Regions from separate parts of the Homo sapiens genome. Here all the other regions are linked to region 1. Evidence: fine-mapped expression QTL. A gene starts in region 1. Each other region holds a variant in brackets. All regions are shown on one strand. Distances are from middle to middle.

Region 1 (2,500 bases):
GAGGGAAGGAGGGAAGGAAAAAACAGAAAGGAAAGAAGTGCTATAGCAGAATCTTTGCTGCCCATGTTATCTATTGCCTTGACTTCTCCATCTGCCAAGATGTGTCAAGCACGCAGAAGCTGGCTGGAATCGATATTTTAAAGACCCGGTTGCGATCTTTTCCTGGTCGTATCAAGGAGTCCTGGAGCTTCTAATATTCCTGGAGGGATATCCAGGAAGAGGAAAAGAGGCTCTTCCTTACTTCGTGCGGTCTTCCAAAAGAAGCACCTTTCGCTGGGGAGAGTCGCGGCGTGGGGTGCAATGGAAGGTTTTGTTCTCCTGGGCCACATGCGTTAGATGTCAGTTCTCTCCACCAGCAGCACCGGCCGGCGCGCGTGGGGAGATCACGCCGGTCTTCTGCCCTTGTAACAAACGCTCCAGATTTGGTCTGGTGCCTTAGGGCTCTGGTCCAGCGCACCCGCTGTGCGCAACGCTAGGCGCTAAGCTGCGCTCCTCGGCTCACGTGTGGACGCGCACGCAGACACGAGTGTCCACACCATACAGAGACATGGGTGCACACACGCGCGCACATAGACATGGGCGCCGCACATGACACGGGCACCACACATGACACGGGCACACACGCGCGAGCACGCTCTCGCCCTGGCTCTAATGCCCCCTCCTCTCGCTTGCGGATCGGCCTGGGCAGGTGTGGGGGTACGCCCCAGAAAGCGCCTAACCTTCTTCTGACCCCACTTCGCAGACACCCCGTGGCAGGGCTTCCTTTCTTCCTTGGGTCGCGGGGAGGAGAGGCGCCTCCTCCTCAGCCACCCAGGTCTGCAGCCTAGCAGAGGAAGGGTGGCGGGGTGGGGGTGCTGGCGGCGAGTCCCCCAGCCCCTCGCTTACCTTCGTGGCGAGGCCAGCTCTTGGGCTTCGCTGCACGGCGCCAGGCTAGGCGCGCTGGGTTGTTGCCTCTGGAGCAGGAGCGGTCGGTGTGTGGATGTCCCGAGGTGAGGGCGCCGCTGTCGCGCTTGAGGCTCCCGGAGCTGTCAGGGGCGGCCGACCTGACCGGCAGCGGCCCAGGGCAAACCCCGCCCTCCGGCCTAGGCCGGCTCCGCAGCGGGGACCGAGACGCCCCACAGCGTTTCCTGAAGGACCAATCCGGAGCGAGGGGCTGGCGTGGGGAAGGAGGGACGGGGGGCCTGTAGTGCACCCGGACGCCGGCCTGGACCTTGTAAGCTGGTTTCTATGGCAGCCAGGAGGGAGGGGCGAGAGGGAGGGGACGCGCGGCGCAGGGACACCCAGTGCAGTCGCTCGGGGAGGGGGGTGATTGGGCCTGACGCAAAGAGGACCCCTTCTAGAGTCTGGATGGGAGCAGCTACACGGCCGAAAGCGGGCTGACACAGCTCCCACCGACGTACGCCTCGTGCCGAGCGGTTCCAGCGCTTCAGCAAGGGTTTCCATGTCCTTGGGAAACCGTGACCCAGTAATCCTCCCAACAGAAAGGGGGTTTCCAGCAAACCACCGTGACAGCTCCTCCGGGTGAGTCGGGCAGGGTTTAGGTTCTGCAGAAAGAAGTGCTAATGTCACCCTCTGTCTGGATTCCTGGCATACATCGGTTCCCCTGGTGCCACTTTGTCACTGGCTCCCTAATCTCCTGCTAGGGAGATACTCTCGGCTGTGACCCTCAGATGCCAAAGATTATTTTTCTAGTTTATAAACTAGAAATACCGTCACTGGATTGAACGTAGAGTTGGAAATGGGATTCGCAAAATACTAAATAAAACATACCGGTTATTTACTGAAGTTTAAGCCCTTCCTTTTACAGAGAGAGAAAAAAAAAACTGAGTTCAGAGGGGTCAGTTAACTTAGCAAGGGTCACACAACTGATTAATGGCAGAGCCAGGACTAGACACCCTAAGTCATAGTTCTGCGAGCATTCTTTCTACTTCCTCCTGCTCTCCATCCTGTATTGATTGCCAGAGCAATATTTACAAGAGCAAAACTGTTAAGTAGCAACATAACCCATGTCTACAATTCTTTTATGGTAGAAACTAGGGAACCCCAAAATTCCTTTTTTGCTATTTGCCAGGCATTGTAATAAACTCTTTTACAAAGAGTAACTGATTAAATCCTCATGATAATCTATGGGTTAGGTACTGTTACTGTCATCCTTGTTTTGATAGATGAAGAAACTGAAGCCCAGAGAGGTTACAGGATTTGATCGAGATCACACAACTGTTGAATGCTGGCTCTGGGACTCTAACCCAGTTTGTTTGACTCCAGAGTTGGTGTTCTTCATTACTTTGTCTCTGCTGCCTGTTTGTGTGATGATTAAAGGGGTCAGGAACGGGAAGGGCAAGAAATAAAAACCTTGGACAGCTCCGTGCACTGACGGTTGAGATTGGAAAGAAAATTGAAAGAACCTGAAACAACTGCTTCCTTGGCTTCTGAGAGTGGTCATCTATTTATGTAGAACAAGGGTTCTCTCGAGAAAATTTGTTTTTAAAGAGACATCCCC
Region 2 (2,844 bases), 53 kb before region 1:
TCTCAGTTTCTTTATCTGCAAAATGGAAAAAAATATTGACCTCACATGGTTACTGTGAAAATTAACTGAGAAGACCACAGAAGGCGGCTGGCACAGGATGTGGGCCTTGCAGGGGCTCTGCTGAGGTCACTTTACTTGCTTCCTTGGCCCTGGCCACCTAACCCCTTTCCTACACTAGGTCCCAATACTGCCAGGGATGACCCTTGGGAAGTCGGATCCTACCTTTGGTTAGGGAGTGAATCCCAAGCTTCACTTGGGAGAAGTTTCCACTTCCGATTTCCCCTCGAATTCGGTAGAAGCCTATCCGTTTCCCCAGCGTGATCTCCCTCACCACCTTCTCATCCTGGGACATGTCCTGTGTCAGTTTCTCGAAGGGCGTCAGCTGGCGGGGCTGTCCCTCCTCACCCTCCTTGCTACTCTCGGTCTGACAGCCACTTTCTACACTGTCGCGCCGATCCCACCGGGCATAGTGGGGGTTCACCAGGCCACCTCCATTCATATACACTGCAGTCATCGTCCACGGGGGCTCACGTCTCCATCTCAGCGAAGAGGCAGGTTGTGCAGGAGCAGAAGAGGCTCAGAGGGTGGGAGATGCCAACTGAGGACAGCAGGTGCCCAGGGTTCAAAAGAGTTTTCCTGAGAGCTGAGCAGCCTCCCTCTCGGCTTTAGTGAGAGGAAGGCAGTGAACGTGGTAGCTGAGTCTGCCCAGCCCAGCCAGGAGCTGCTCGCCTCACTCAAGACATTTCCCACCTTCCCTCACGTTGAACTTGCAGGCTCTAGCTGTACAATTAGGCACATGTTACATACCCACTGGCCTGATGGGACTCCAGGAACTTTCTGGCCAGACGTGGAGTCTGATGCTTTGTGGTAGGTGGCTGTGCCCCAGGACAAAGGCTTCTGTTTGCTATTTCCCTTGATGGCCAGAGAATCTTGCACTCTGGTGCGTAAATGCCCCTGGGAGGCCCCCACGTCCCTGCTGCGGGATCTCATCTCTGACCTTCATTTCATGCTTCTCTTTCTGTCAAGCTGCAGGGCGCTGGAGACCTAATAATCTGGACCCCAGGAAAGAAGAAACTTGCAAATAAGCCTTCTGGTCACACAGGCAGCCAAAGAAGGATTTAATCCCTGCAATGTCACTTTAGCCGGCCTTTATTTAGATGAACCTTCCTCTAAGCCGTGAGCTGTCTCGAAAATTTGGCTGGTTCAACCTAAGAATAGAGAGTAAGAAATTTATTAGCCTATGCTAATGTACTGTACAGGATTTGTAATGAATGTGCAACTGCTTTGTAAGCATTGATCTAAAAGTACCCCACAAATTTATGACTCATATCAGTAGTAGATGCTTGATTACATGTGATCTAGTAAGAAGAAAAGAGCATATACACACACCTCTCAACCTACATTTTAGAAAAGCCCCTAAGGTCCGTACATATTTCTAGCAAAACAATTTTTCTATTTCTTAAAGTTTAAGAAAATATGCACATTGCCTTGTGTTGCTTTAAAACCAAATTTTAAAAATAATATGATAGCAAAGATGAAAGATTC[T/C]GGATTACTAATGGTTTTCAAAATTTCTCATATTTATTCAAATAATAATATTTTATCTCCTTTACTACTTCATGTTCTTGCACAACTTGTCCTATACTAGTTGCTTCCACTCTTTCTTCCTATGTCATTTTATGACAAAGGCTGATTTTTCCTCCTACATTCACTTTTTGAATTTTTCTGAGCAGGTGTCAGTTTCTAGGCCCAGCACCTTATTTTGAAGATGTGGAAAAGGAGGGTTTACAGCATTGCCAGTGACAAGAAATGCTGCCCACCTACGATGTCATCGGGATGTTTTTTTTCTGCACTCTCCAGCAGGAAATACTCTCTTCCTCTCTGAATTCCCACAGCACTTCGTGCATTTTCCAAAATGTCCCATCTCAGTGAAGGTGGGAACTGGTTTTGACTTGTAGGTATGTCCTGCTCACCTCCTCTCTCCTTCAAAATGGAGTATAAGTTCTTACATATAGAAAGTGTTTACTAAGTAAATATGTGTTAAACTTGATTTTTGGACTTGAGCATTCCAAACCAAAAATTTGACTGAAAACATGAGAGACTGCCTTGGAAGTATGGATTTCCAACTCTGCTCAATAATATCACATTATTACAATTAAGTATAAATAAGGCTTCCTAAGCTTATACTTAAGGTTAAGTATGGGGTTGCCAAATAAACATAAATAAGGGAAGTAAAGAGGAGGTTGATGCCCAGTACTGCTCCTATTTCTGGATAGAGAGAAAGGAATCTGGAAGAAGGATGATGAACACAGGCTTAAAAGGGACCAGGTATCAGTAACTAAGCACATCTCTAGGTTAGAGACCAATTAGGATGTTTTTTAAAAACATTTTTAAGATAAAGTTCCCCTTAGCAGGGTGTGGTGTTGTACCTCCTAGCAGGGTGTGGTGGTGTACCCCTTAGCAGGGTGTGCACCTGTAGTCTCAGCTACACCTACAGACTGAGGTGGGAGGATGGCTTGAGCCCAGGAAGTGGAGGTTGCAGTGAGCTGAGATCAAGCCACTGTACTCCAGCCTGGGTGACAATGCCGGACCCTGTCTCAAAAAAACAAAGCAAAGCAAACAAACAAAAAAGGTAAAGGTCCTTAATTAGAGTGAAGAAAATCTAAGTCACTGATTCTTCTTCCTTTTCTTTACCCACCTCTACCTCCCAAAGTGCTGGAATTACAGGTGTGAACCACTGTACTCAGCCAAAATCACTGATTCTTAATCATCCTGGGCTCACAGACTCCTTTGAGATGCTAACAAAACCTATGACTTTATCCCCAGGAGGAAAAAAAAAAAAACCCT
Region 3 (2,844 bases), 140 kb after region 1:
TTTGGAATAAGTGCAGTGTGGTGCTGAGAAGAATGTATATATTCTGTTGATTTGGGGTGGAGAGTTCTGTAGATGTCTATTAGGTCCACTTGGTGCAGAGCTGAGTTCAAGTCCTGGATATCCTTGTTAACTTTCTGTCTTGTTGATCTGTCTAATGTTGAGAGTGGAGTGTTAAAGTCTCCCATTATTATTGTGTGGGAGTCTAAGTCTCTTTGTAGGTCTCTAAGGGCTTGCTTTATGAATCTGGGTGCTCCTGTATTGGGTGCATATATATTTAAGATAGTTAGCTCTTCTTGTTGAATTGATCCCTTTACCATTATGTAATGGCCTTCTTTGTCTCTTTTGTCTCTTTTGATCTTTGTTGGTTTAAAATCTGTTTTATCAGAGAGTGGGTTTGCAACCCCTGCTTTTTTTGTTTTCCATTTGCTTGGTAGATCTTCCTCCATCTCTTTATTTTGAGCCTATGTGTGTCTCTGCAGGTGAGATGGGTCTCCTGAATACAGCACACTGATGGGTCTTGACTCTTTATCCAATTTGCCAGTCTGTGTCTTTTAATTGGGGCATTTAGCCCATTTACATTTAAGGTTAGTATTGTTACGTGTGAACTTGATCTTGTCATTATGATGTTAGCTGGTTATTTTGCTTGTTAGTTGATGCAGTTTCTTCCTAGCACCAATGGTCTTTACAATTTGGCATGTTTTGCAGTGGCTGGTACCGGTTGTTCCTTTAGTGCTTCCTTCAGGAGCTCTTGTAAGGCAGGCCTGGTGGTGACAAAATCTCTCAGCACTTGCTTGTCTGTAAAGGATTTTATGTTTCCTTCACTTATGAAGCTTAGTTTGGCTGGATATGAAATTCTGGGTTGAAAATTCTTTAAGAATGTTGAATATTGGCCCCCACTCTCTTCTGGCTTGTAGAGTTTCTGCTGAGAGAGCCACCGTTAGTCTGATGGGCTTCCTTTTGTGGGTAACCTGACCTCTCTCTGGCTGCCCTTAACCTTTTTTTCCTTCATTTCAACCTTGGTGAATCTGACGATTATGTGTCTTGGGGTTGCTCTTCTTGAGGAGTATCTTTGTGGCATTCTCTGCATTTCCTAAATTTGAATGTTGACCTGCCTTGCTAGGTTGGGGAAGTTCTCCTGGATAATATCCTGAAGAGTGTTTTCCAACTTGGTTCCATTCTCCCTGTCACTTTCAGGTACA[C/G]CAATCAAATGTAGATTTGGCCCTTTCACATAGTCCCATATTTCTTGGAGGCTTTGTTCATTTCTTTTTACTCTTTTTTCCTCTAACTTCTCACTTCATTTCATTCTTTTGATCTTCAATCACTGATACGCTTTCTTCCACTTGATCAAATCGGCTACTGAAGCTTGTGCATGCATCACGTAGTACTTGTGCCATGGTTTTCAGCTCCATCAGGTCATTTAAGGTCTTCTCTATGCTGTTTATTCCAGTTAGCCATTCGTCTAATCTTTTTTCAAGGTTTTTAGCTTCTTTGCGATGAGTTTGAACATCCTCCTTTAGCTCGGAGAAGTTTGTTATTACCGATCTTCTGAAGCCTACTTCTGTCACCTCGTCAAAGTTATTCTCTGTCCAGCTTTGTTCCGTTGATGGCGAGGAGCTGTGATTCTTTGGAGGAGAAGAAATGCTCTGATTTTAGAATTTTCAGCTTTTCTGCTCTGGTTTCTCCCCATCTTTGTGGTTTTATCTACCTTTGGTCTTTGATGATGGTAACCTACAGATGGGGTTTGGTGTGGATGTCCTTTTTGTTGGTGTTGATACTATTCCTTTCTGTTTGTTAGTTTTCCTCCTAACAGTCAGAACCCTCAGCTGCAGGTCTGTTGGAGTTTGCTGGAGGTCCACTCCAGACCTTATTTGCCTGGGTATCACCAGTGGAGGCTGCAGAACAGCAAATATTGCAGAATAGCAAATGTTGCTTCCTGATCCTTCCTCTGGAAGCTTCGTCTCAGAGGGGCACCCGGCTGTATGAGGTGTCAGTTGGCCCCTACTGGGAGGTGTCTCCCAGTTAGGCTACTCGGGGGCCAGGGACCCACTTAAGGAGGCAGTCTGTCCGTTCTCAGATCTCAAACTCCATGCTGGGAGAACAACTGCTCTCTTCAAAGCTCAGTTGGAAATGCAGAAATCACCTGTCTTCTGTGTTGCTCACGCTGGGAGCTTTAGACTGGAGCTGTTCCTATTCAGCCATCTTCGAACGATCTCAGCATACACTTATTTTTCAAGTGAGTGTAGCTCTTCTGTGGTTTCAGCCATTGGCCCCAGAGTGTGGGTCTCAACAACATTTTTGTCCCCTTTAAACTTCAGAAATGACTCTAGCCTATGTAAGCCCAGCATGGCAGCCTGAATGCACTGTACTTCATATGTGCACAGAACTGGGGACATTGGCAGTGGTGGCTCAGTGCAGTGAAGTTGTCCATTGCCCAATCCCAGCTTACTTTAGGCTTAAGTCTGGTGGCATGTGGGGCTCTGGACATGCTGCCTTCAAGACAGCTCTTCCAAAGATGATGAATGGGGCTCCATATTTTAGCCTCCAGATCAGGCCAAGCTACGTGGCTGGTCTAGGAAAGGGAGTAAATGATTCTGTCCAGTACAGACTGTGCTTTTATAGTATGTTCTGTTATATACAGAATGGCAGACACCAAAGTCCAAATAGTTGGGAGATGATCACTAATTCATCTGGAAAAATTTCTTCAGGACCTGATAGGATTAAGGTGAAAATTGTAGGCACAATTGAAAGTCAGCAGGGTTGTTATGATTGAATCAGGCAAGAAAAGAAGTGAGGGAAATTCCATGGGAGGGTAGAGTCCAGTTACTAACAGTGTCTATTGTAGGA

Which allele goes with the higher level. Positions count from the first base shown, and alleles are read on the strand shown. Sizes are in standard deviations (SD) of each study's normalised expression. Not every link is listed here.
As copies of G replace C in region 3, the expression in lymphoblastoid cells of the gene that starts at base 1,072 in region 1 goes up (small effect, 0.36 SD a copy in TwinsUK).

The links. PIP is the estimated chance that this variant, and not a neighbour inherited with it, causes the effect. A credible set is the group of variants that fine-mapping cannot tell apart.
Region 2: its variant is the best candidate, but not a certain one, in a credible set for the expression of NIM1K in lung (TOPMed, PIP 0.64).
Region 3: its variant is the best candidate, but not a certain one, in a credible set for the expression of NIM1K in lymphoblastoid cells (TwinsUK, PIP 0.63).

The regions. Positions count from the first base shown.
Region 1 is chr5:43,190,797-43,193,296 of GRCh38, reverse strand. It overlaps NIM1K (NIM1 serine/threonine protein kinase), which reads right to left and starts at 1,072. Exons shown (of 4, transcript NM_153361.4): 1 at 886-1,072. RefSeq lists an enhancer at 47-756 and a silencer at 1,092-1,231.
Region 2 is chr5:43,243,446-43,246,289 of GRCh38, reverse strand. NIM1K (NIM1 serine/threonine protein kinase) reads right to left here. Exons shown (of 4, transcript NM_153361.4): 2 at 223-1,208. The coding sequence starts at 514. Among named protein-coding and RNA genes, the nearest start is that of NIM1K, 53 kb to the right of the region's middle. The variant T/C (reference allele first, on the strand shown) is at 1,546.
Region 3 is chr5:43,053,012-43,055,855 of GRCh38, reverse strand. All of the region lies in intron 2 of ANXA2R-OT1 (ANXA2R overlapping transcript 1), which reads left to right. Among named protein-coding and RNA genes, the nearest start is that of ANXA2R-AS1, 12 kb to the right of the region's middle. The variant C/G (reference allele first, on the strand shown) is at 1,200.